Linked DNA regions of Homo sapiens. The protein of the gene in region 1 purifies or fractionates together with the protein of each later gene. This does not show direct contact. Each region holds a gene or a part of one and is shown in the gene's direction. Other genes may lie near its edges.

The links.
Region 2: the proteins of ZNF396 (region 1) and PGBD1 purify together in Homo sapiens (affinity purification with mass spectrometry; 4 studies listed by BioGRID and IntAct, with this or other methods). This does not show direct contact.
Region 3: the proteins of ZNF396 (region 1) and SCAND3 purify together in Homo sapiens (affinity purification with mass spectrometry; 3 studies listed by BioGRID and IntAct, with this or other methods). This does not show direct contact.
Region 4: the proteins of ZNF396 (region 1) and ZSCAN18 purify together in Homo sapiens (affinity purification with mass spectrometry; 4 studies listed by BioGRID and IntAct, with this or other methods). This does not show direct contact.

The regions. Positions count from the first base shown.
Region 1 is NC_000018.10:35,374,323-35,382,021, reverse strand, and holds the start of ZNF396 (zinc finger protein 396), read left to right. Parts: upstream 1-4,684; 5' UTR 4,685-4,744; intron 4,745-5,070; exon of another isoform or gene 5,071-5,895; intron 5,896-7,657; 5' UTR 7,658-7,699. UniProt on the Homo sapiens protein: Isoform 1 and isoform 2 act as DNA-dependent transcriptional repressors.
Region 2 is NC_000006.12:28,276,792-28,284,590, forward strand, and holds the start of PGBD1 (piggyBac transposable element-derived protein 1), read left to right. Parts: upstream 1-4,780; 5' UTR 4,781-5,127; intron 5,128-6,964; exon of another isoform or gene 6,965-6,984; 5' UTR 6,985-7,022; coding exon 7,023-7,418; intron 7,419-7,799. Other genes in the region: ZSCAN26 (zinc finger and SCAN domain-containing protein 26), read left to right, coding at 1-305.
Region 3 is NC_000006.12:28,584,279-28,592,163, reverse strand, and holds the start of SCAND3 (SCAN domain-containing protein 3), read left to right. Parts: upstream 1-4,865; 5' UTR 4,866-5,446; coding exon 5,447-5,866; intron 5,867-7,885.
Region 4 is NC_000019.10:58,083,349-58,088,250, reverse strand, and holds the end of ZSCAN18 (zinc finger and SCAN domain-containing protein 18), read left to right. Parts: intron 1-846; coding exon 847-935; intron 936-1,242; coding exon 1,243-1,345; intron 1,346-1,984; coding exon 1,985-2,077; intron 2,078-2,871; coding exon 2,872-3,566; 3' UTR 3,567-4,395; downstream 4,396-4,902. UniProt on the Homo sapiens protein: May be involved in transcriptional regulation.

The DNA.
Region 1 (7,699 bases):
CACATTGGATTTCATAAACAAGGGAAAGAAAAATGTGTAAGATGACTCCTAAGACTTACTGCCTGGAACATAGAGCTAACAGCAGTTTCACTATCAAAGCAAGGAATTTGGCCTATTGAGGGTGATGGAGAGAGAAGATGAACTCAGTTTGGGATACTTCCTGATATGGTTTGGCTTTGTGTCCCCACCCAAATCTCATTTTGTAGCTCCCATAATCCCCATGTGTTGTGGGAGGGACCCGGTGGGAGATGACTGAAGCATGGGGGCGGGTCTTTCCCCATGCTGTTCTCATGATAGTGAATGGGTCTCATTAGATCTGATGGTTTTAAAAACAGGAGTTACTCTGCACAAGCTCTCTTTTCTCTTGCCTGCTGCCATCCACGTAAGATATGACTTGCTCCTCTTTGCCTTCTGCCACGATTGTGAGGCCTCCCCAGCCATGTGGAACTGTAAGTCCAACTAAACCTCTTTCTTTTGTAAATTGCCAGTCTCAGGTATGTCTTTATCAGCGGCGTGAAAACAGACTAATACACTTCCTTAATTGTTTTCCCAACTTGATACTTTATTCACGTCTTCCACTAAGGGAGAGAGAGCTCCCCTAGTTCCCTCACACAAACTCTCATATCTGTTCACTGTGTGAAAAAGAGTCATTCGAAATCTAAGCTGCTAGAACTCTAAATTATTTTAGGACTTGGAAGAATGTTATTACTGATCCTGAGTCACATGGTAGGCACCTATAAACTAGGGAGCTATAACCTTCTGTTTCTCTGATTACAGATGAAGCCTTTTCCCTTACCTGCATTGTTTTGTAAAATGTTATATATGGCCAAAGGGAAGAGGAAGACCCCTTCCCTCTCCACTGTTGGCCTTTATTATAGATTCACCTTTCTCTTACCTTTCTCACACACAGACTTCTTGACTATCACATTGACTTAAGATAGAATGTTAAATACACTCTTTTAAATTGGAAACCAAATGAAAACCAACTATAAAGAAAACAAGCTATATGGAAAAGAAAACAAACTAACTAATTAATTTGTTGAAACTATTAAGCCAGCCTTGTATAGAAAATGTTGCAATCCTGATAAATTTCTTTGTCTTCTTCCTATATTAGCAAGATTTAACTTTTAACTTTGGAGCACTGATCCCATTTCTCTGGAGTCTGTGTGTCCTGGAATGGCTATTCCCAGCTTTTTGTTTGAATAAACTCTTTAAAACTGGATTCTGACCCTTTTATTATTTCAGGTTGACAAGTGTGTACCCACACTTGGACTCCTACACATACAACCCATCCACCACTTGCTTGGAAACCATAGTTCCATTGTAGGCAAATTGCTTTTTATTGCTCAATCTAAATTTCTTTTTTTTTTAATTTTAAAGTTTTTATTTTTGTTAATTTTTTATTTCAGTTTTGGGGTACATGTGGAGGCTTGTTATACAGATTAACTGAATGGGGGTTTGGTGTACATATTATCTCATCACCCAGGTAATAGGCATAGTGGGTAGTTTTTGAACCCCGACCCCCCACTCAAGTAGGCCCTAATGTCTATTATTCCCCTCTTTGTGTCCATGTGTACTCAATGTTTAGCTCTCACTTATAAGTGAGAACATGCAGTGTTTATAAACCTAAGTTTCTTTTTTTTTGAGACAGGGTCTCATTCTGTTGCCCGAGTTGGAGTGCAGTGGAATGATCATGGCTCACTGCAGCCTTGACTTCCTGGGCTCAAGTGATTCTCCCATCTCAGCCTCCCAAGAAGCTGAGACCAAAGGTGCATGCCACTATGCCCAGCTAATTTTTGGTATTTTTTTGTGGAGATGGGGTTTTGCCATGTTGTCCAGGCTAGTCTCGAACTACTGGGCTCAGGCAATCCTCCTACCTCGATCTCCCAAAGTGCTAGGATTACAGGCATGAGCCACCATGCTTGAGCCAACCTAAATTTCTTAACCTTCTAATTCCTTATCCTATAGAAACATGGCAGCTGTGTATAATACATCCACTTCATGCACCTCGGGTCAAAAAAAACAAGGGTTATGTGTTTAGACAGACACAGATCCATGCCCCTAAAAGCTTCTACCTAGGTGGAGAGCAAATATGTTGGGATGAAGGGAGTGGTGAAGAGTACAAAGTTGAGAAATAAATGTCTCTATAATGTCATTGTAGAGTGATTGCCTTAGAAATGGTTCATAAAAGTCATAGAGATCTTTACATACCTATATAAGGGAAGCATTCAGATATAAAACATGTTTGATATTTATTTTCACATGATCACACAAAATGTCCAATTATGTGCAGTTATTGATGATAGCATCCCATTCAGCTTCTGATCCAGTCTACCCAAAAATCCCCTCAAATATCCACATAAGCCATTGTCAAACATACTCTGTTGTTTAACTTCCCTGAATGACACATTATGTACCCAATCATCTGTCAGTCTTCCATCTAAGCAAGCACCAGCCTCCCAAGTGTTTCCAGAATCTGCCTCCATTCTCGTCCCCTCTGTGCTAGTTCAGACCTTCACCAGCTGCAGCCTGGATCTTTGCAACAGCTTCAGAGCTGGTAACCCTGTCTTGAGTTTTGCCTCCCTTCAGATCTATCCTTCGTGTTGCTATCAGAGAGCCCTACCTGAATTGCAGATGTGCACATGCCACTAATTCAAGTTTCTGCTTAAAACCTTAGTTCATAGCCCTTTACTTGGCCTGTCAAACCCTTTAAAACTAGGCTGCTGTTTGCCTCTTCAGCCTCATCCTCAGCCACTCATCCTGCTGTCCTTTAATCCAGCAAATCTAAACAACATCCCACACTGGTACCTCAGTCTCAAATGTATCAACACCAGCTTTCTCCATCAACTCCAATCCCAGTCTCTACCCAGGACCTCCCTTTCTTTGTGCTTTTATAGTATCCTGCAGTTGTCTCCATCAGAATGTTGCCACATTGTTTAGAAAAGTCAATTTATTCATCTTTCTCTTTACTTAGTCTATTAGCCCCTAAAGGGCAAGAATCTATATTTTACCATTGAATTCCCGGTGTTTACGATACAACTGGTATATAGTAGGTGCTCACCCTACTGGGACCTTATTCCTGCTAATTTCTTTTCACTTTACCCCCAAAATTTTTAAAAAATTAAAACAGCAAACAAAAACCTGTTCTTGCTCTAACTACCTGACTGTGAAACTTTTCTAATCAATCTTTTATGTCTGCTCCCTTTTTTGTTGTTGCTGTTTTTAACTTTGGCCTCTGATATCTGGCTGTTTGGTGGACCATACCCATGAATTCATCATCCCTGACCTCTTGCCACATCCCACAGTTCCTCCTTCTCCTTGAAGCTTCTGACTGTCGTTCATATTCTCCTTAAATTGTCTCCTGTGACTTCACACCACTGCCAAGCCTTGCCCTCGTTTCAAATTCTCCCCTGACGTGAGTCATTTAACCTACCCTACCCACCAGCGCCAGAAACACATTCCCACCTGCACTTTTGGGCTGTTTGCTATTTGTGTTGGCAGCTGCATCAGCAAAAAGTCTTATCCTGTGAAAGCCCCTTGTTTGAAGCAAGAATTTCTTCAGATTTAGTTTTACTGTACTCTAATTGGGATCCAAACCTCTCCCTAGTCCCCTAGCGTCATAAACTGAGTAAACCAGCCTCTTCTTTCTTCACTTCAGATTCCAGTACTAACATACTTTTGGGGCGGCGTCATACCAAAAGGGATTTTTTGTTATTGTTCTTTATTAATTAGCAAGTGCTTTTCAAGCATCTCCGTCCTCTCCCTAATTCCTCAGTTACGAGTACAAGTACATTTTCCAGGAGTCCCTAGGGAAAGGGGCTAGAGAAGGAAGTCACGAGGTGGGGCTGTGGTGCATTTAGGCTTAAATTTATTTATTTATTTATTTTTTGAGACGCTCTCACTTTGCAGCCCAGGCTGGAGGGCAGTGGCGCAATCATGGCTAACTGCAGTCTCCACCTCCCCAGATTGAGGTGATCCTCACCCCTCAGCCTCCCAAGAAGCGGGGACTACAGGCATGCGTCTCTACACTCGGCTAATTTCTGTATGTTTTGTAGAGATGCGGTTTAGCCATGTTGGCCAGGCTGGTCTCGAACTCCTTGGCTCATGTGATCTGCCCATCTCGACCTCCCAAAGTGCTGGGATTACAGGCATGAGCCACCGCGCCCGGCCTCAAACTTATTTTTCAATTGAGATTAAGATTATCTGAGGAGAGATATGTGTATGTATTGTAACAAATTTTATGTGGGTCAGTTCTCACTTTTTCAAGGGCCATTGTGTTCTCCTGTGAAAGCATGGGGTTGCGGATGTCAAACTTGTCCCTTAAAACGTCAGTACTTGGGGTGTAACCACTTCGGGAGTGGGAATGGTATTAGGGATTGTACTCAGCGGTAGACAGCACAGCATTCGCCCCTCTCTGTAATCCTTGGCAAGTCACAGGACATTTGAGTTTATTTTCTGTAAAATGGGAATAACCTTACTGAGTTACCGGAGTAAATGAATAATGTAAGCAAAAGCACTTTGCGAAGCAACAATGCTAGTTTATTGAACGGAACACTGAGCAGAGCAGCTGGATTCCCACCGGTCGAGCCTCCCGGTTCTCTTTCCCTGTCCCAAGTGCGCGGCCACAGCGGCTCTTCTCCATGGCAACGTCCCCGCGTTCCGGGCCCCGCCCCGACCCGCCACCAGAACCGGAAGTTGTTGCGCAGCTGGCAGTTCCCCGGTTTCTCCCCGACGGCGTCGGGAGGTGAGACCCGAGGCCTCTTTAGGGCCCCCAGGCTGCGGTCAGAGGCGGTGGTCCCCGGGTGGTGGAAGGGGGACGCGGAGAGGCGGCCGCGGACTCGTCGCCACCCCTCCCTTCGCGCGCAAGTGCAGCACCCTTACACCGTCCCAGATCCCCAGGCCCCTCCCCTCCGCTGCCTGCCCCTGAGTCCGCGCACCCCTTCCCCTCGTCCTTCCCCGGCGGACCCCGGGCGCCTGCCCTGCCAGGTGAACCCGCGCCACCTGCCGCTTCGCCCCGGCGGTTCCCAGCCTGGGAGGCGCGCGGCGCGGCGCGGTGGGCGCGGGAGGTCGGGAGATGGTCGGAAGCCAGCCCTCCCAGAGCCGGCCCACCACAGCAGGGTAGAGCCGAGAGCGGCGTCCCCTGCAGAAAGACCCCTGCGTCCCAGGCTTTGATCGAAGCCTCCCCTCCAGGGACGTTCTTTCTGGTTGTCGTGCGGTGTCGGGGGTTCCTTACCCTCACCTCAGGTTTAGCACAGATTCTGCGCCTGGTGCTGAAGTGACAGGGCGGCCACTCTCTTCCAGAGGCTGCTTTAGCCCCGGGGTCCCTCATATATCCCTTAGGGTACCTGACGGCTCCAAACCGGTGGCCTCAACCCTTCCCACCTCTCAGGTCTTGTTCCCCAGACTCTTCTGGCCCCGCTTCATCTGGGAGCGCGGCTGCCTGCCGCCACTTCCTCCTCTGCGCTGAGACAACGCGCAGGGGTCACCACAAGGGCCCCTGCTGCCTATGGCCTCTAACCACACAGCACCATGGATAAATGTGGACGGCCTGGGTTCAGACCCCAGCTTTGCCCTTGGCCAGAGTACCTGGCTTTGCTGTGACTGCTTCCCCGTCTACAACATGGGGGTAAAAATAATCTAGGGCTTTTATGAGGATTTAACCTTTGTTTATTTTTACTAAGGTGTTCAAAACAGTGCTTGGCACATAGTAAATTCTGTTAATATGTGTGTCTGCTATTGTTTGTTTCATAGCACATCATTGTGTAAAGTTGTATCATTTATTTGGTAACAACTTTATGAACTCACAGGCTTTATACAGGGCCTAGAACAATACTTGGTGAAGTGAGAAAATAAGTCAAATGGCAGGATACATAACGATGGAAGACGGAGGCGCACGTAAGATTTTTAAAGTAGTCATCATTTGCTGAAGTTGTACAAACACTATCATATACCTCCTGCCCAATTTAAAAAATATGATTAGACCGGGTGCAGAGCCTCACGCCTGTACTCCCAGCATTTTGGGAGGCCGAGGCAGAGGGATCACCTGAGGTCAGGAGTTCGAGACCAGCCTGGCCAACATGGTGAAACCCCGTCTCTACTAAAATTATAAAAATTAGCCGGGCGTGGTGGTACACGTCTGCAATCCCAGCTACTTGGGAGGCTGAGGCAGGAGAATCGCTTGAACCCAGAAGGCAGAGGTTGCAGTGAGCCAAGATCCCGCCATTGTACTCCAGCCTGGGCAACAGGGCCAGACTCTGTCTCAAACAAAACAAAACAACAACAACAACAAAATGAGATTAGTTACTGGTGATACTTAACAGTAAAATGATACAAAGGAAAGTGCCGTCCCCCCCCAACTTTGTTGCTAACGAGCTAATAATACTTGAAGAAATCGTTGCCCTCACAAGTCACTATGATTGTGATGGTATTGTGAATTGATACAGTCTTTGTGCAATATTTTGATAATACATAGCAAGACAGAATTTGCTCTTCTCCTTTGATCCTCAACAAGCAGAGGCCTTGGGACATGCTTGAAAGAAATACTTTGAAAGGAGAAAAACAGTATATTCATAAAGATGTGCCTCCCAGCATTAATTATAATAGTGAAATTAGAAACAACCTAAGTATTTTAAAATAGTTAAGTAAGTAATATGGATATGGAAAAAAATAGAAATACATTCAGATGAAGGAACGTGATTGCCTTTTTTGTTGTTTTTTCTTTTTTTTTTTTTTTTGGTGGGGTAGAGATGGGGTCCCATTATGTTGCACAGGCTGGTCCCAAACTCCTGGGCTCAGGTGATCCTCCCATCTCCCACCTCGGCTTCCCAAAGTGCTGGGATTTCAGGCATAAGCACAGTGCCCAGCTGATTGGTTTATTTTTTTTTTAATGGTTCCTTTAATGTCGAAGTAATGTTTTAACAGTAAAAGCTGAAAAAAGTCACACAAAAGTGCTTCCCTCATGAGACTATTTCTTTGAGCTCTTTGCAGCACACTAAATACCGATTGGCTCTTTGAACTGGCTCCAGAGTTAGAGCATTTCTCAGGCTTCCCTTATTTCCATTATCTGGGAGCTTCTATGCAATCCTGGCTGATCTCTTATTGTAATATTCAGTAGCCTTGTGGGCATGGTTTTCAGAATGAATTGTGAATCACTTATGCATATGAATTAATGAGTCTTAGCTGTTTGGTTCTCTTAAAGAAGTATTCTTCAAAAGCATGGTTTCTGGGCCTGGCGTGGTGGCTCAAGCCTGTAATCCCAGCACCTCAGGAGGCCAAGGCGGGTGGATCACCTGAGGTCAGGAGTTCGAGACTAGCCTGGCCAACGTGGTGAAACCCTGTCTCTACTGAAAATACAAAAATTAGCCAGGCGTGGTGGCGGGTACCTGTAGTCCCAGCTACTTAGGACGCTGAAGCATGAGAATCACTTGAACCCAGGAGGCAGAGGTTGCAGTGAGCCGAGATCACACCATTGCACTCCAGCCTGGGCAACAGAGCAAGACTCCATCTCAAAAATAAATAAATAAATAAAAGCATGGTTTCTGTTAAGACTAAGGTCAGTAGTTCCTATACAGTCTTATGTTTCTAATCTTAGTTGTTTTGTTCTAAGAAGCATTTGTCTTTTGTCTTCTTTCCACTTGTTTCTTTAATCATATTTAAGGAGTGTCCATCAGGACAGCTTCACCTCCTTGAGGATTAAAGC
Region 2 (7,799 bases), on another chromosome or scaffold:
CCTTACTCCTCACCCACCATCAGAGAATCCATAGTCACTCCAAAAGCCATCAATGTAACGAGTGTGGAAAAGCTTTCAGTTTGACCTCAGACCTTATTCGACACCACAGAATTCATACTGGAGAAAAACCTTTCAAGTGTAACATATGCCAGAAAGCCTTCCGACTAAACTCACACCTTGCTCAGCATGTAAGAATCCACAATGAAGAAAAACCCTATCAGTGTAGTGAATGTGGAGAAGCCTTCAGGCAAAGGTCAGGTCTTTTTCAACATCAGAGATATCACCACAAAGACAAACTGGCTTGATGAGGTGTTCTCTCCTTGTAGAACATCAGAGAAGGCACATTGACTAGCAAACAGCACTTTAGGAAAAGTCACCGTAGCCCACTGTGGCATCAGAAAATTCTTGGGGGCTGAGTTGGAGGCTCCCTGCCTCTATTCTCTCTCCTTTGCTTTCCTTGAAGTCAGCTTTGGACCACAATAATTTCACTGTAGATGATATGCTAGGATCAAAGTTAAACAGCATTCTTCACTGCAGGACATCTCAGAGCATGTAACATAACTGCATGATTATATACTCTAAGCAATAGAGAGCTTCATGACTGAGTAAGAGTTTTGAAGTCAGCAGTGAATCAAGTGCCCACAGATTTGCAGGCTTAAGCAGAACAAGGGAAGATTGATATTTTTGGATATGCTATAGCAGCTTTCTCCTATGAAATAAAACTGATGATGTTTGGAAGTATACTACTCTCAAAGGTGTCTTTAAAGTACAGGTTAATGGTGAACATTTTCCCCCAGTGGCTTCACCTCATTCCTCCCACTGGCCTTACCCCTTCCTTCCCCAGTGGAAGCATTTTCAAAAGCAAAGATAATTTTCGCTGGTGAACTTCAGAACTTGCCTTCAGGGTTAGCTTCATGTAATTTTACCATTTCCCATCCCCATTCCCCACCACATTATGTCAAGATTCAAGTTATAAATTAACGTTTTACTTAGACTTTGAAAGAGATTTCATGAGTAATTTGAATGAACCTTGCTGAATTAATCTGAATAGCAACTGTCTGACTTGATAACTCCAGTGCCAGTATAGTGGCTGCTGCATAGACACTATTCAGTAAATGTCTGATGAAAGAAATTGGACTTTTTCCCTTTAATACTGATGATGCAATTTTGAAATGTTGCTTGTTCTGGAATACTTCGGAAGTTAAACAATAAAGTCAGCTTGGAGAGGAGATCATGATCTTTATACTGTGAATAGCAGAATGTCACAGATGAAGAATATTAAAATTAGGGGCGTCCACTCCAAAACATATCACCAGAGTGACAACTTCAGCCCTCAGCCTCTGCAATCCATATATATCCTGGTCTTGGGAGTCCATAGAATACTGTTTCCTTCTAATAAAGGTTTCAAACAAATCCCTGCAGATTTATTTAAAGTGTTTGTGGAAGATAATTTTCCATATAAGCTGTGCAGTATTCTATGGTATATGTCCCCATTGTTCATCATTTACGTCATTTACAGTTTGATCACCATAAACAATTTTTCAGTGAACATCCTTGTATATACAACTTTGCCTACTTACAGAATTTTTTTCTTTGTTCAGTTCCCATAATGAGAATCAATGAGGCAGAAGGTAGGCATATTTTCTAAGGCTTTTGATGCATTTTCCAGAATGCCCTCCAGAAAAGTTACACTAATTTGTACACCCTGTTAGCAGCCTATGATAATGCCCAATTTTCTATACCCACGTAAACTGGGAATTATTCTTTTGAATATTTGACAATCTGATGTGTACAAAATGGTTTGCTTTTTTTAATAAACCATTTTTTAGAGCAGTTTTAAGTTCTCAGCAAAATTGAGAGGAAGATACAAAGATTTCTCATATACCCACTGCTCCCATTCATGTATAGCCTCCCCTATTATCAACATCCCCTCCCAGGGTGACATTTGTTACAATTGATGAACCTACATTGACATATTATCACCCAAAGACCATAGTTTACATTAGGGTTCACTCTTGGTATTGTTCATTTTATGGGTCTGGACAAATACATAATATCGTGTCCACCATTATAGTTTCACTGCCCTAAAAATCCTCTGTGCCTTACCTATTATTCATCCCTCCCTTTTTCCAGCCCCTAGCAACCACTGACCTTTCTACAGTCTTTATAGTTTTGCCTTTTCCAGGATGTCATGTATACAGGTTGAGTACAGCTAATCTGAAAACCCAAAATCCAAAATGCATTAAAATGTGAAACTTCAGCACCAACATGATGCTACAAGTGAAAAATTTCATACCTGACCTCGTGACAGGTCATAGACAAAATCCAGTCAATACTTTGTTTCGGCTGGGTGCAGTGGCTCAAGCCTGTAATCCCAGCACTTTGGGAGGCCAAGGTGGGTGGATCACCTGAGGTCAGGCGTTTGAGACCAGCCTGGCCAACATGGCGAAACCCCGTCTTTGCTAAAAATATAAAAATTAGCCGGGTGTGGTAGCATGCACCTGTAGTTCCAGCTACTTGGGAGGCTGAGGCACGAGAATCGCTTGAACCCAGGAGGCGGAGGTTGTGGTGAGCCAACATTGTGCCACTGCACTCCAGTCTGGGCAACAGAGCAAGACTCAATCTCAAAAAAAAAGACTATGTTTCATGCACGAAAGTATTTAAACTGTATAAAATTAGCTCTATGTGAGTAAGGTATATATGAAACAAATGAATTTCATGTTTAGACTTGGGCCTCATCCCTAAGATATTTCATAATGTATGTATATATTCCAAAATCCGAAATTGGAAACACTTCTGGCCCCAAGCATTTCAGATAAGGGATACTCAACTTGTAGTTGAAATCATACAGTATGTAGCTTTTCAGACAGGATTCTTTCACTTTGTAATATGCTTTTAAATTTTCTCAATATCTTTTCATGCCTTGATAGCTCATTTCTTTTTTTTTTCTTTTTTTTTTTTGACATAAGGTCTCACTCTGTTGGCCAGGCTGGAGTGCTGTGGTACGATCTTGGCTCACTACAACCTTTGCTTCCTGGGTTTAAGCAATTCTCCAGCCTCAGCCTTCTGAGTAGCTGGGACCACAGGCGCACACCACCACGGCCGGCTAATTTTTTGTATTTTTAGTAGAGATGGGGTTTCACTGTGTTGCCCAGGCTAGTCTCCAGCTCCTGAGCTCAAAGTGATCCACCTGCCTCAGCCTCCCAAAGTGCTGGGATCACAGGCTTGAGCCACCGTGTCTGGCCAGCTTATTTCTTTTTAGCACTGAATAATATTCCATTGTCTGCATATACCACAGCAAAAGAAATATCTGTTAAAGGACTGTTATCCAAAATACAGAAAGAACTCTTAAAACTCAGAAATAAGGAAACAACCCGATTCAAACATGAGCCAAAGACCTTGACAGACACCTCATTAAAGAAGATATACAGATGGAAAATAAGCATATGAAAAGATGCTCCACACCATATCCCATCAGGGAAATTGCAAATTAAAACAACTGTGAGATGCCACTACACATCTATTAGAATGACCAAAATCCAGAACACTGACACATCAAATTCTGGTATGGATGTGGAACAACAGGAGCTCTCATTCATTGCTGGTGGGAATGCAAAATGATACAGCCACTTTGGATGACAGTTAGGTAGTTTCGTACAAAATTAAACATACTCTTACCATGTGATACAGCAATCGCCCTCCTTAGTGTTTACCCAAAGGAGCTGAAAACCAGTGTCTACACAGAAGTTTGCACACAGATGTTTATAGCGGCTTTATTCATAATTGCCAAAACTCAGTAGGTAAATGAATAAATAATGGGTCTGTTTTTTAAAGAGTTTTTTATATTTTTACTATTGAACATCTTTTCACATGTTAATTTGTCACTTATCTTGTGTGTAGTAATGTTCATATCCTTTACTAATTTTTCTACTAAAGTCTCCTTTTACTCTTAAACAGAAGTGCCCTTAAAAATCAAATAGGGAACTTGCATATCAGCATTTTAAATGCACGTGTCCTTTGGCTGAACAGTTCTAATATGTGGCATTTATCCTAGAAATATATTCTTAAAAGAATGTAAAGGTATTGAATGGTGTTCCCTCTAGCATTGCTTTTAAAGAAAAAATATAACCTAAGTATGCATCAATAGGATAGTTAAGTAAATTATGGAACACTCATACAGTATTACTTAGCTGTTAAAGAATAAGCTGATCTGTGAAGATCTCCAAGTTGTCTTAACCGAAAAGAGCTAAGGTGCAAAATTACATTATGATACCATAAGTGTTTTAAAATGTATAAATACTTATTCACTAAACAAAATGTTCATTAAGTGCTACTGTGTGGCAGGTAGTGTCCTAGATAAATATGAACAAAATACAATGGTTAACTCTAAAGAGGGGACACTTTTCGTTTTATGGTCCTTTTGCAACTTGACTTTTTTATTGTACATATATTATGTATACTTAAAGAAAATAATTTGTACAGCTTACTATAATGGTCTTTTTATTGATCTGTCTCTCCTACCAGCCAGTGATGACCCCGAAGACAGACATTTACCACTGTGTTGGTTTTCAATCGAAATGATGTACATAAATTTGGGGCGTGCTTGCACCGTCCGAATGGGCCTGGGGTCCGGCGGCGGAGAGTGACCTGGGCGGGGCAGGAGGTGGCAGCGGGGGTCCTCCCGGCTCACCAGAGAGACGAGCGGCCGTGCTCCTAGAGAGGCAGGGAACCCGCCAGACTCCGCCACTCCGCTGCGGGCGCGGCGCAGGGAGAAGCTTTTGTACCCGCCCAGCTGCTGGAGGCGCCGGCAGCGCCCGCCAGACCCGCCAGCCCAGCGGCCCGGGCTCTGGGGAAACCGGCGCTCCCGACAGGGGAGCACCGGGCCTCTGAGCTCCCTCGGGAGCCTTTCACGAGGTCAGCTACGTCTTTGTTGTGCGCGTTCCTGAACTTTTGGTCCATTAACCAACAATTAGACACGCCGGTATTCAGTGCCTGGCGCGGTGCTAGATGCTGGGTGTAATCTCAGAAAAATACATTCAGGGGCGCGCCTGAGGGTGCTGGCTGCTGGCATCTCAGGTGCTTTACGTGCATTCGTGAAGAAGCCCATCAGTATTTCTTGAATACCAGGTACGTGCCGGGCATGTAGAGTCTATGCAGAGATAAACTCCTGTCCTCAAGAACCCGGGTGGGGATGGGGTTGGTGATCTGTAATACGAGATGGAGATGAGGGTTGGGTGCAGTTTTCTATGGGAATACCCCATCTCAACCTGTGTGGCTTACTTTTCCTGTCTATATGTTAGGGTTAGGGGTTGCCAGGGAAGGTTTTACAATAGAACATTTACGCTGGGCCTTGGGAATTTACCCTTAGAAGGGCGGTCCTGACTGTATAGAGTGGGTGGAAAAAAATTGAGTACTTAGCATGGCAGTGACATAAGAAATTTGGGAAGACCATGGCTTTCTTGAAAGCAGGAACCAAGTCTTTTATTCCAGAGTTAACTTTATGCCTGGAAAATAATGAGATGCTCCACAAATGTTGATTGAGTGACAAACAAATCAGCAAAACCCAGTAAAGATTAGATCCTGGGGAGTTTGAATTTACTTCAACGAGTTTAATGAAAACTTTGTGTGTGTTTATGTGTGTGTGAGGTATGTTGAATATGGTCACAACTGTGCTTTAGGGAATATTAATCCAGTGACCATAGAAGCGGGGAGTTGGGCAGGAATACCGTAACAGAACATTATTGTAACAGTGAATGAAAATAATAGTAAAATTATAAGAAGGAAAGAATGGCTGCAAGAGGCGTTTTTAAGAATTGACTCACTGATTGTGTATAGAGGCTGTTTAAAAGACTGAATGCGTGGAAGATGATGGTGATGCCAGTAGAAATGGAGAAATACCGAGTGAACGCAGCTTTGAGGGACTCTGATTTCAGTTTGAGATCTGTTGAAATTATAGTGCAGTAGAGGCCCACAGCTGCTGGCATTTCAAGATGTGGGTTTGGAGTGCAAAAAGCAAGCTGGTGCCAAAGATTTGAGTCTTCTTGGAACAGAGATATATTGAAAGTGTGACTAAGGAGATCACAAAGGAAAAAATGAAAAGAGGGAATAAAAGAACTTGATGCATGTCTACTGTTTTTCAGTTATGTATTGTTGCATCAAAAATAAAACTCTAAACTTAGTGGCTGAAAACAAGCTCAGCTTATTGTTCCTCAGGATTATGCGGGTTGACTAGGCGGTTCTACTGGTCTCACCTGGAGTTACTAATAGAGCTGCATTCAGGTGGTGAATTATTTGAGCACTAGGCCTGGCTGGGCTTTAACTTGGGCATTTTGGTTCTCATCCACATGACCTCTGTATAGCTAGCTTGGGCTTCCTTACAGCATGGCAGTCTTATGGCAGTGAGCCAAGAGCTACAGCAGCACTCTCTCTTACAATGTCATTTCTGCTGTATTCCACTGGTCAAAGCAAGTCATAGGCCAGAACAGATTCAAGGGAAGGAAAAAGAGACTCCACCCCTTGAATGACAACAGTGGCAAAATCTCATCACAAAAGGTATTTGAGAATGGGAGACTTTGGAAACATTCTGTTACACCTACATTTAAAGTGGAATATTCAATGAGAGTTACACAGATATAGAAGACCTTTGAGACTGTATTATTTGTCCATGAAGGCAGCCATCTGCCTCCTCAATGGGTAAATTATCCCCTCTCCCCAGCTGAAGTGCAAGCTACTCGAGCTTTCTTATTGCTAACACTTCTTCCCTCATGTCCTACATCCCTTACCTTTGGACTCAGGCCCTTTAGTACTAGTTCAAAATATACTTCTGATTCATTTCACTGATAATAGAAGCAAGCAGGCTCAGCTTTTGAGCATTACCTACAGTGGGGACAAAAATGTAAGTAGGTTACATACAGTTTTGAAGCTCTTATAATTTGCATGTTGCTGATAAATTCTTATGCCTCAGATCTCTATTTCTGAATATAGACCCCAAGCTAAGTGAAGCTTTAGCCTCTAAGCTCAACATGTATGAAGCTTTGCCAGGCCCTGCTCCTGAAAATGAAGATGGCCTTGTGAAAGTGAAGGAGGAAGATCCCACCTGGGAGCAGGTGTGCAACTCACAGGAGGGCAGCTCCCACACTCAGGAGATTTGCCGCCTGCGCTTTCGGCACTTCTGCTACCAGGAGGCTCACGGACCCCAGGAAGCTCTGGCCCAACTCCGAGAACTTTGTCATCAATGGCTGAGACCGGAGATGCACACCAAGGAACAGATAATGGAACTGCTGGTGCTGGAGCAGTTCCTGACCATCCTGCCCAAGGAGCTCCAGCCCTGTGTGAAGACATATCCTCTGGAGAGTGGAGAGGAGGCAGTGACAGTGCTGGAGAATCTAGAGACAGGAAGTGGAGACACAGGACAACAGGTGGGAAGAGAATGTGTGTGGTGATGTGGGAGAAGAAAAGGGGGACATGTATCGGTTTATTTTTAACGTTTTATTTTGAAATAACTCCTAATTTATAGAAGTATTAGAAGAATAGAGAACTCCCGTAAAACTCTTCATCCAAATTTGCCAGTTGTTAACATTTGTTTGATGAAGTCCCATTGTTGTGTACACACTCGTACAAGGAAGTGCATTCCCCCCCCCCAAGATGCATATGTATATGTATACACACACATACATACACATATGCAGTATTTTTTTTTCCTGAATCTATTTGAGAGTCAGTTGCAAACACTATATCCCTTTACCTCACTGTTGACCAGGCTGGAGTGCAGTGGTACGATCATAGCATCATTGCAGCCT
Region 3 (7,885 bases), on another chromosome or scaffold:
TGGAGTTAATTTCAATTCCTTTCCTATTAGGATGACTTTTATGTCTTTCTCTTATCTAATTGCTCTGGCTCTATAAAACTAATCTTTTGAGAGTTTTTATGATGAAAGGGTGTTGAATTTTGTCAAATACTTTTTCCGTATCTATGGATATAATCACATGGTTTTTATCCTTCATTTTTGTTAATGTGGTGTAACACATTTTTTGATATGGACAGATTTTAAAGTCTGTTTTAATTTCCTCAGGAAATCAGCTACCATTAATTTGCTTGGTCCTCTATTCTGAACACATCTTCTCTCGGCAGCTGATCATATTCTCAATCCTTAGCTGGATATCTTCTTTGGAAAAGAAGTTTTCCCAGGATATGCCTATACATCTTTGATGAAACTGTCAAAGAAAAAATGTACCAGATGGAGTTAAATAGGCAAGGAAGACTTTATTCCAGACAATTGCAATAGGGGAGAGAAATTAAATAAACTCAGATCCAAATACATCAGGGACAGCTGGGGATCTATAGCTAATAGTAAGGGTAAGACAACCATTTGATAGAAAGTGACTACGAGGAACTTGATTAGATATCAAGGGTGGAAAAAGAGAAACTTGATAGGATTTTGAGGTGAGGAATTCTTACTGAATTGGCTTAGCAAGATTCTTGCTAAAACTAGGCTCAACTGGATTATTTGCTGAAATTGGGCTGGACAAGCCAAGGATGGGACCTAGTTGAGAGGAGGGCTCAGAGGAACCTAACTAAAGTTTGTTCAAGGGTGGAGTTTTTATAAATACCCACGGGAATTTCCTCAGCTTCCTAAAGGAATTGGTAGACCCACAGAACATGTAAGGCATCAGGGGGAGCATCTACATATGCTCCCAGCCTCTCCCAGTGTTGGTGGCTGCTTCCGCCTCCTCATAGCAGCTGCTCCTTGGCCTTCTGTTCAGTTCTGGGTCACGTTGTGCAGGCACCATCTCCAATCAGGTCTTGTCCATTACCTTAATTTAGAGGCTTGGGATAAAGTCTGAGTTACTGGTTTGAGCTAGGATAAGTGGATGCTTGACGATGGATGTGATCATAATGATTACTTACAGTAACACAGGCAGGCTATGGTGTTGGTCGGAAGGATGGCTGGACTTATAAGCATCCCAAACAGGCAGAAGAGGCTGTTAGGCCATTAGGAAAAGGGAGAACACTTTGGGTGAGATCTCATCACGCTAACATCAACAAAGTGGAAAGAAGGTGGGGCCACACTAGCTAAGGCAACACCACAAGAAAATGTTATTTCCCTCTGCAATTAGCACCATTACAGACCATATGAAGTACAATCAAGCACACATAACGGGAGCCAAAATAATGCTTTCATGAATTTTGTAAACTTAGTTACAGAGTCTCTGTGTAACCAATGGTAATTCAAAATATGAGCTAATGAATTATTAATGGTTTAATGGACTTGGTGAAAGTAGGATTCGATTTGGTTTTTTGGTATGTATGCGAAAATCAAAATGTCAAAGTAAGAAATCTGAAAATAAATAATTGGATTTAAAGGTTGTCTCTTACATCATAGAAGAGATTAATTTGTACGAAACACAAATACTTGTTTCTAATTTAGTTCTTGTCCTCTCTGTCCTCTAGGGCACACCTTTCCCTCACCTTGACACCTCACATTTCCCACCTCATTCTAACAGCTAAATTAGTGTCTATAAGGAATTTTCCAGACCTTCCGGGTTTCATCAACTCTATCTCCAATTCAATCCTCGTCTACACACACAGTTCAGGGGAGGCAAGATAGCGGCTACATTTTCTGTTCTTGACCTTCAGCTCCAAGGGACTGTTTCCCGGATGCTTCGGACCGAGTGTTTGGTAGTGTCTGGGGAGGACTCGGTCAGGGAGCCCCCTCCTTTCACCCTGGTACTAGGAGCTGAAGAGGCGAGATGCCAGGCGAACGGCTGAAGGCAGAGGTCTTTTTACCCCCATCTCCCTTGTCTCCCACACAAGTTGTAGGGCCCCTCCACCGTGTCTGGTCCTGAATTGGGAATGCCAGCTCCCAGCGCGGCGAGGCCCAGGTCCGGTCCTAGGTGAGTTTTTCTCTCCGGCTGGAAGACTCGACGCCGTGGATACCAGGGACCCGAGCCCTCCGGGGCTGCTGGCTTTGGAGGGATTTCCAGACGTTGCAGTCGGGGTGAGCGGAGAGACTAAGAAGTACAGGGGACTAGAGAAAGCAGATGAGGGTGAATTGTCTCATCAAGATGGGGGATAGGGAAAAGGGGCGAGAAGTAACCCGGGGCGCAAGGTCCACAGCGAAAAAAAAAAAAAAAAACAAACAAAAAAACAAACAAAAGAAACACGCCCGAGACCAAGGCTCAGCCACTTTACACGCAGGACTTGGTTGTGGCAGCGAGGAGGGCTTCGAACCTAGGAAATTTTGAGGAAGCGTTTGTCTCCATCACAGGAATTGGGTTTCCACGTTGCTGCTGGAGCTTTTCGTAAGTCGATAAGAGCAGCATCTTTCTCTTTGTCTCCAAACCCGTGAATTTGATACGCTTTGAAAGCGTTCTTCTAGGCGAAAGAGCTTGGTACTTTCATGCTTGGATAGAAGGGGAGAGTTCAATACCGTGCACGCGACCACAAAGTTGTTTTCGACGAGAATTCGATGGGAAGCGGAGGAACGAATTTTTCCCACATTCAGAGGCCAAGCCAGGAACTGTAAAACGTTCACCTTTGAAAGGTCCCACCGAGATTCGAACTCGGATTGCTGGATTCAAAGTCCAGAGTGCTAACCATTACACCATGGGACCAACCACAAGGGTACAGTAGGTAAGTATAGTCGTGGTTAAATACCTCCTTGATAATAAACTTTCTAGTTCCGATCCGAAAGAGTTAGGTCAGGCTTCAGTGAGACTCACGCTGACAGGAAAGCTGACGCTTTGCTGCTGAAGAAGGAGTAACTGTCAAAATAAAATTCAGGGAGATCTCTTCACTCTTTCCTGCGCTTTTGTTGGGAGCATAAATTAGCTTCCAGAAATCAACCGGGGCAGATTTGTGAGGTCTGAAACTTAACAATTTAGAAAGTCCTCTTTAAGAAAAAGAACAGCTGTTATCAACATAAAATTATGGGTACTCTAAGGCCTGTATGATGTATCTGAGGATAAGCTGGAGTAGGGAGAGGAAGCTGTCTTAACTAATTTTCACTATACTAGCATACTTTTGCAAATCTTACAAAATATGTTTCATACAGAGCAACCTCTTCCCAAGGCCTTGGAAAGCACAGCGCAAGGAAAGGATCTTAACACACTTTAGCGAGACTCACGATAAACATCCCTCTGGGGTGCAGATCTTTTAGCAATATCTATCAAAATAGTCTCTTCTACAGCCACTAAAAAGAATGGGATAGACATGTAACACATGTTGGCTTGGCAGTTTCTGGGGGAGGATTTAAGTTTAAAACAAACCAAAAAAGCCCAGTAACTTGGTGAATTGTAGTCTAGTATGATTTAAGTTTTGCAAATTATAATGAGTTATAATTGTGACTCAGTTATATTTGTACATAATAATATTGTACTCAATTTTGTATGTACATTTTAAAAATAGGTTGGAGGTACATACAACAAACTCGGCATCAATTTTTCTGAGGAATGGAACTGAGGATGAAGAAACTTCACTTCTTGCCACGTTGACTTTTTAAATATTTGACTTTTTTTATAAGTGTCTATCACTGTTGTAGTAATTAACAAATGCAAATCTACAAAACAAAACAAACAAAACAGTAAGGCTCGTCAGTAAAGGACTTAGAAGTCATGCTTACTCCATGTTAACTGCCTACTGTGCTCAGCATGGCAGAGATCACTGCCTTGCAGAATGAGAAAAAGGTAGTAGAATCCCTGATTGCAAAGGATAGTTAGGGGGGGAAACAAAAGATAAGTTCAGCACGTTAAAAGTGACTGGGAAAATGATCTTTTCAGGGTTGGATGACACAGGCACACAGACAAAAATTTTATACAGAATTTTACTCAAGACCATTCACGGACTCTAAGCGTAAGATTTCTTTTTTATTTAGAGATTTCTAAAAGAGATGTTCTGATTATTCAAAGACTCTCTACTCAGAAATGCCAAAATGTGAGAAATCAACATGAGGACCACAGCAGAAGGAAACAGAGAATGGAGAAGGGAACCAGGCAGCAATTCAACAAATATTCCTTGGGCATCTCTGCGCTACCAGAGGTATGGAGGAACCCAGTGACTGCTTGAAAAGAATGTTCTGGTTACTCCACTCCAGTGATTCGCTAGGCGCTGATCAGCCGTCCAGATTTTGTTAGATTTCTGGGACCAGTTTCCCACAGTTGTTTAGTCACGGCTCTGTGCTCCGTGACTAAACAACTGAGGCTCATTCTCGGTGGTCTTGGTTTTCTAATCCGTAAAATGGAAACAATGGACTAACTCTTACATTTCTTTTTAAGTCTGATTTAGGGTGAAAGGGAAAGGTGAAAGTGGCCCGAAATTAACGAGGAAAGGCGGGGGACGATCCTACAGATTCGCTGACGTGGTAGTCCTTAGGGATGCTCCTCTCCATTTTGTTTCAGGTCGCTGCGGTGAGCACCACGGGTCTGAGTGCCAGCGATGGTTTATCACGGTGACAGGAAAACACAGACCAGCAGCATCTACTCCAGCACTACTCACACTGTGGAACTCTTTTCACCGTGATGCCAGATAACTAGGTAATTCCGGAGTTAATTCTCCGTCGTTTCCAGAGTACTTGCCTCCCCAGAATTACTGGTACCGTAGGTGTTTGCACAACCAGTGAGAAGACGGCACCACCTGGAATCCTAGAGCGGACCGGAAGTGAGCGTGGCTCACCGGGCCCGGCCGGAACCTACGGGCACAGCTGCGGGTGTGTCTGCGGAACCTCCACCTGAGCTGTAGAGTGTTTCCCTCGACCCACTAGTCTGGGTTCCACAGGGTCTGAGCTCCTCAGAGGTGGGAGCTGCGGCCGAGGGAAGGGTGCATGTGCGCGGCGACAATCGGGCCTCTTCCCCAGGCAGCTTGTGAGCCCCTCTCCCTCTCCGCCCTCGCCCAGGCTGCTCCGATCTTCGTTTCCTTGCCTAGGCTCATACACCCAGGCTTTATTTAGGGCCAAAGTATCCGTCATAACCTCGGTTTTCTGTCTCGCAAGTATCTTGCCGCTCAATTTGTGACCCTGAAGCTTTAGTGAGTCGCTCTGTGCTCACTATTTCTGGTCTTTTCAGAGGATGGCTTCACTTTCAATGGAATTGCCCGAGTAACTGCCCTGTGTTGTCACGTAAACAAGTCCTTTTAAACTGAGTCTGTAGTTGTCCTGTGTTGAGTGTTTTCTTATATCAAAAACTTTCCTGACCAAGAACAAAAAAGGAGCTCAAGTAAAATCACCCATTTGCCTAGACCCCAACTGGAGAGAACCTTTGCCTGAGCTGTCTAAGCTCGGGATGGAAGCAGTCTCTAGGGTCTTCCCAGCCTTGGCTGGCCAGGCTCCAGAAGAACAAGGGGAGATTATCAAAGTAAAGGTTAAAGAAGAAGACCACACTTGGGATCAGGAATCAGCCCTACGTAGGAATTTGTCTTATACCAGGGAACTCTCTCGTCAGCGCTTCAGGCAGTTCTGCTATCAGGAGACACCTGGGCCCAGGGAGGCTCTGAGTCAACTGCGGGAACTTTGCCGTCAGTGGCTGAACCCAGAGATACATACCAAGGAGCAGATCCTGGAATTGTTGGTGCTGGAGCAGTTCCTGACCATCCTGCCTGAGGAGCTCCAGTCTTGGGTGCGGGAGCATAATCCTGAGAGTGGAGAAGAGGTGGTGACTTTGCTGGAAGATTTGGAGAGGGAGCTTGATGAACCTAGACAGCAGGTGAGAAATTGGAGGTGCCATCTTCTGTGGAGAATTTGGGTGCATGGATCCAGAATGGAGTAATGGGAGTAATTTCGCGCTGGTGGTTGGAAACCCTGGTTTGGGGCATTATTTCTTATTTGATCACTGGTGTAGATGAATAGATGCGTGCATATGAGATAACAGTTTTTGTGTATGATACAAATAATTAAATGATTTAACCAAATGGAAAAGCTTGATCTATTTTTTACCAGTAGAAAATATATTTTATGTAGTGACTATGAGATTAAAGAAATATACAATAGTAAATTTTTTTTAAAAAATTACTGTCTTTTGAAGCTATCTAGGCTCTGTTACTAATTAGCTGTGTAACCTTGGGCATATTACACCTTCTCTGGGACATTAATGTCTTCATCTGTACAATGAAAATACTAATTGCATGATTTCCTTGGTTCTTTTCAGTATCTAGAGTTGGTATGTAAAATGTTTTGAGCTCAAAATTATTTTTAGAAGAATTTTAAAAGCTTTTTGCCATTACAGTGGAGTTGTTTCTAAAGGAGTATATTTGCCTTCTTTGACAGTAATTTTAGAACATTGTGGATATTGCCAGACATTCTTATATTTTTTAGTGATACTATTCATACATTTATCTGAACTCTTTCAGAATGTGAACCCTTTATGTATACAGTCTGATCTGTTAAAAACGCATGTTTCTGGAATGCAAAATCTTTTAAAATGAGGTCAGTATGCCAGAAATGAGTCAGTATAATGCTGAAATTGTGTAAGCTCATGTATGAGTTTTCCCAGCAAGTTGATGTTTGGGGCCACCAGGTGGGAGTAGCTGAATTCAGAGTATCTGATGTAGCTGAGCACAGCAAGTCCTGAATACATACAGTACTGTACATAATTCCCATTTGCCCCCACATCCTTCCTCTGGCTGTCTTGGAAGCACTTATTTACATTGTTCCCTCCCATCTTTGTGTATTTTTTGCTAAAGTTTTTTGTATTCCAGAAAAGGAGCAAGCAGAGGGTTTTGCAAGTGCCATAGAAGTGTGCTTGTGATAAAATTTCTGCTAGTGAGTATAAAAGAAGAAAAGCTTTAACAATTGAAGACAAGTTTGAAACTATACAGTGTTTTGAAAGAAAAGAAACTGTGAGATTGGTCATGCAACTGGCATAAAGGAGTAAATGTATGTACAATTAGAGACAATGATGGGAAAAATAAAATTATCTAGCTGGAACAACTGCCAGTGTTATGAAATCTGTTGGAACAAGGAATAAGGAAATGGAGGAAATGGAGCATTTGTTAAGTGTGTGGATTGAATACCAAACAAGGAAGCAATCCAATGCAGTCTTTCTCAGAGTTAAAGAAAATACCTTCACAATGTATGGAGACATTAAGAAAAAAAGATGGAAGTCCCGCAGAAGTGCCTTCATTTAGTGGAAGTAGTGGCTGGTTTAGTATCTTCAAGAACTACTGTACTTTCCACAGTGTTAAACTGTCTGTGCAGACGAGGCTGTAAGTGCAGATGAAGAAGCTGCAAAGACATTTTCCCCTCATTAAGAAATTAGATTGATAAGGAAGGCCATCCCCTGGCTCAGATTTTTACTTTTTATGAAACCAGTCTCTATTGGAAGCAGATGCCCTCAAGGGGATATGTGGAGAATTTGGATGCATTGATCCAGAATGGAGTAAGCAGGACTGGAAGTACTCTAGAAACACACTGTGGGGTTTAAGGCTACAAAGGATCAACTGATGGTGATGCTGGGTGCAAATGCCAGTGGAATTTTAAAGCTAAAGCCTGTGATTATCATTCTGCCAATCTATAAGCTTTAAAATGAATTGTAAAGACTAGCCTTGGTGCCTACTACAGGTCTAGCAAGAGAGACTAGATGACAGGGCAGATATTTTCTGATCTTTCGGGTGATTTTTTTGTAGATTAAAAAAAAATAAAACATTGCAAGAGAAAAAAATTGTCTTTTAAAATTCTTATAATTCTCAGTGATACACCAAGCCACCCTCCAGTAGTCACTGAGCTT
Region 4 (4,902 bases), on another chromosome or scaffold:
CTGGTTCTTTAGTTGCCCAGCATCGCGTGCTCAGCCCATCCCCATCCTAGAGGTGGGCTCTCTGCCCCTTGGAGTGAAGCTGCCCTGACACCTCCTGACTTGTGTGCCCATATGTGAGGCTCTGGGCACTGTGGGTGGACTCCTCAGGACCACTGGGCAAGTGGTGTGTGAGTTCGACATTTCACATAAAATAGAAACTTCCATGTGGTTTTCCAGAAGTTTTGTGGCTGTTCATTACCAGCACGGAAGGTGCCCACTGGCCTGGATACAGCCCAGCACTATGTGGTGTTGCTTTTTAGGATTTCCACGAAGGCCAGGCACAGTGCCTCATGCCTGTAATCGCAGCACTTTGGGAAGCCAAGGCGGGCAGATCACTTGAGCCCGGGCATTCGAGACCAGCCTGGGCAACATAGGGAGACCCCATCTCTACAAAAAATACAAAAATTAGCCGGGTCCGCACTTTTAGTCCCAGCTACTTGGGAGGCTGAGGTGGGAGGATTGCTTGAGTCCAGGAGGTGGAGGTTGCAGTGAGCCAAGATCATGCCACTGCACTCCAGCCTAGGTGACAGAGCAAGACCCTGTCTTTAAAAAACAAACAAACCAAAAAAAAAAAAGATTTCCATGAATCCAGTGGACTTGAATGGGCATCTCTGGGGCCACCCAAGCCCTGTGGCCACCGCGCTGCTTTGTAAATCAGGGAAAGGTGTAGTGTCCGTTGAGCCTTGGGTGCTGCTGTCACAGAAGCACACTGGGGCCTGTGTGGGAGGCAGCGGGGGCTCCTTGACCCTTGAGGGCACCTGGCCACAGGGAGCTCATTGCCTCAGCTCTGCCTCTCCTTCTCCCCAGCCTGGCTTTCTCCGGACCCCCTGTTTCTGGAACAGAGGAGGGTCAGAGAAGCAAAGACCGAAGAGGACGGCCCTGCCAACACCGAGCAGGTGGGTGGGCACGAGCAGGTGGGTGAGGGGCCTTGGCCTCAGCTTAGAGGCATCCCCCTCCCCATCACCAGTGCTCAGCAGAGGGCTGTGGCCCCAAACGTCCACAGCGCTGAGGCCCAGAACCCACCCTGGTGGGAGCGTGAGGGCGGAATCTTTGTGGTGCGAAGGGGGCTGCCTCCTGCAGTGCACCTGGGTTAGAGTCCCTGGCCAGGGCTGGCTCCTAGCCTGCTCCTGTGGCTGTGGGGCTGCGGCGGGTCCTCCCTTCTCTAGGGCAGGTGGGAGGTCTCAGCCACGACTAATGTTTCAGAAGCTGAAGTCCTTTCCAGAGGACCCTCAGCACCTGGGGGAGTGGGGCCACCTGGACCCTGCCGAGGAGAACCTGAAGAGCTACCGGAAGCTGCTCCTGTGGGGTGAGAGTCGCCTGCCTCGGGGTCACGCCCCACTCCCCATCCCCTTCCGCAGGGGTTGGTGCAGGAGACTGTGACCCCAGGGACTTTGGCTGGGACACTGTGATGTCTTACAGGATTTGAACTTGCACGTGTTGGAGCTTGAATTTATTCGCTGAAGCCCCCACCCTTTCTGATCTAAACATCTGAGTTCTGCCCAGGCCCTGCCTGTAGGACTGAAGCCTCGGAATTTGGAAAGGCCTCCTGGCCCCAAGGCGCCCACATTGCCACCCTCCTTGCCAGATACAGGGCCTCACCTGCATGGCCTGATCAAGGGTCTCCTCTTTTGTAGACGTTCTTGCCCCAGAAACCCTCCTTTTAGGGAGGCCCCCCGACTCAGACTCCTGAGCAATTTTTGTCAATGTCTTTCTTTAGCTTTGCTTTCTCTGAGTCCTGCCTCCGCCTGCCCCGTTGCCCTTCCAGCCTCGCCTTCTTCTTTGCTCCACTGTCCAGGGGCCTAACAGGGAGGTGGCCTTGGTGGGGGTCCCAGTACAGAGAAGAGGAGGTGGGCTGCAGCCTGCCCTGGCTGGCCCACGACACACAACACCCATCAGCCACTCTGTGTTGATGCCTTTTATTTCTTTGGTTTTTAACCCCACTCAGGGTATCAGCTTTCCCAGCCTGACGCTGCCTCCAGGCTGGACACTGAGGAACTCCGGTTGGTGGAAAGAGATCCACAAGGAAGCAGCCTCCCAGGTGAGGTTGGGTTGAATTGGTGTTAGGGCCGGGTGGGGTTTGCTTTTTCTTCAGAGGCTGAGGGGGCCCCTCCCAGCGCCATCAGCCCCAGCAAAGACCTCAGCATTGACTGCTTCACCATTCTCCCACCACCGTGTCTGAGTGAGGCAGGAATCCAGTTACGTCCATGGTCTCTTGCTGCATGACAGACCACCCCAAGACTTGGTCGGTGGAAACGGCAGTGGTGTTAGTTGCCAGGATCTGTGTATGACTGGTCCCGGGGGTGGCCGTTCTGCCCCATTGGAGGCTCTGTGCCAGCACACCAACAAGAACACCTAGAGGCGGACTTGGGCTGGAGGGCCCTGGGTGCCTGTCGCCAGGGGGCTTGTCGCTGGGGGGTTTGGCCTTAGCTATTGACCCCACTCTCTTCGCTGGCAGCCGGGCCCCTCCCTCCAGGAGGGTGCGCTCTGAGCAGGCTCTCCTTGCATCGTGCATCTTGTGGCCAAGCTAGTGGCCAGGTGGAGACCTCCAAAGGCGCGGTTTCCAGAACCCGGGCTCAGTGGGGCTGTCCTTCCTGTCCTGTCGGTGGCCTCCGTTGTTGGAGGCCTCCAGGTCCCACATCTGCAGCAGCAGGCGCGGGGCATGCGCTGCAGGGCTGCCTGGGAGGGACAGCGCTGCTTCCAAACAGCCGTGAGCCCCGCGGGGATCCAGAGCCCGGAGCCCTGTGCGCTGTTCCGGCAGCTGAGGCTCGGCTGGGTCCTCCTCTCCCTGGCCCTGGGCGGGGCGCTCACGCTAGGGCTCTGACCTTGTTCCAGAAGGCGGGAGGCGGCAGGAGAGCGCTGGGTGCGCCTGCGAGGAGGCCGCCCCCGCGGGGGTGCTGCCTGAGCTGCCTACGGAGGCGCCCCCTGGGGACGCCCTTGCCGATCCCCCGTCGGGCACCACTGAGGAGGAGGAAGAGCAGCCTGGGAAGGCCCCGGACCCGCAGGACCCCCAGGACGCGGAGTCCGACTCTGCCACCGGATCGCAGAGGCAGTCCGTCATCCAGCAGCCTGCCCCGGACAGGGGCACGGCGAAACTGGGAACCAAGAGGCCGCACCCCGAGGATGGGGACGGGCAGAGCCTCGAGGGCGTCTCTAGCTCCGGCGACAGCGCAGGGCTGGAGGCCGGGCAGGGCCCTGGGGCTGACGAGCCGGGCTTGTCCCGCGGGAAGCCCTATGCCTGCGGCGAGTGCGGGGAGGCCTTCGCGTGGCTCTCGCACCTGATGGAGCACCACAGCAGCCATGGCGGCCGGAAGCGCTACGCCTGTCAGGGCTGCTGGAAGACCTTCCACTTCAGCCTGGCCCTAGCCGAGCACCAGAAGACCCACGAGAAGGAGAAAAGCTACGCGCTGGGGGGCGCCCGGGGCCCCCAACCGTCCACCCGCGAAGCCCAGGCGGGGGCTAGGGCGGGCGGTCCCCCAGAGAGCGTGGAGGGCGAGGCTCCCCCCGCACCCCCAGAGGCGCAGAGGTGAGCCGCTGTGCTGTCCCGTTCCGGAGGGGCCGCTTTGCCGGCCGTGAATCCCAGACGAGGCATTGGGCCTTTCCACGCCCCTGGGTGGCGGCTTCCTGTGGTGTTTGTGGACGTCCTCTGCCTGTGCCCTGAATCCGCTCCTGAGGCTAAGCGCTCCCAACGAGAAGGGTCCACGGGAAGCCCTCACCTCTGTAAACACACCCTGGGCCAGCGCTCGCATCCGAGGGGAGCCGCCGGATGTGGAAGAAGACTCGGCTTTCCTGCAGCCATTTAGTGCCGCCCCATGCTAGGTTATTTGACATTGTGCAGTGTAGAGTTGCCTTAAAGTGCGTGATCTGCCAGTGCTTTCTTCAAGTCACCCTTGCCCCGATTCCTCCTGTTTGCGCTCCCCAGGGTTGCTCAAGTGGAAATTTTGTCAGCTGTTTAGCCTTTTCGTACTTGGCGTGATGTCAACTTCACTTCTAATCTGCAAAAGCAGAAGCTGTTTCCTAGTTTACCTCGCGTGTGTTTACCTATATGGAGTAGCTCGCAGAGATCACAGAAATGCTTGCAGCCTAAGGCAGGGTTTTCAGACCGTGGGTCCCAGCCCATTTAGTAAAATGGGAAATCAATTAGCAAGTGGTCACCAGCATTACACAGCAATGAAGCAGAATAAAGTAGGCCAGAATGCATCATGTAGTAAAGGCAAATACTGTTTTGTGAAACTTTTCACCCATACATCTAAATGTGAGAACTGGTTGCAATGTAAGACATTTCTTGCTGGGAAGTTGTGAGCAAAATAAGTTGAAAACACTAATAAAGATCTGTCTGTCTGAGCAAAGGAGACTAAACTCCTTGGGCTACATAAGGTGATCTTTTCATTGATTGCATTTATTCTCAAGATTACAGTATCATTCCCATTGCCTGCGCATAAACTTAACTGCTCCCTGCGCATAAACTTAACTGCTCCCTGTAGATACAGAAACTGGTGCCTCTTTTTCTGTCACTGTGTTTGAGCAGGCAGTCTGTTGTAATGACCCCCAAATCACAGAGACTTAGTAAGTACTTATTCATGGGCCGGGCGTGGTGGCTCACACCTGTAATCCCAACACTTTGTGAGGCTGAGGCAGGCAGATCATGGAGTTTGAGACCAGCCTGGCCAACATGGTGAAACCCTGTCTCTACTAAAAATACAAAAAATTAGCCAGCTGTGGTGATGCGTGCCTGTAATCCCAGCTACTCAGGAGGCTGAGGCAGGAGAATTGCTTGAACCTGGGAGGCGGAGGTTGCAGTAAGCCAAGATTGTGCCACTGCACCCTAGCCTAGGTGACAGTGCAAGACTCCATCTCAGAAAAAAA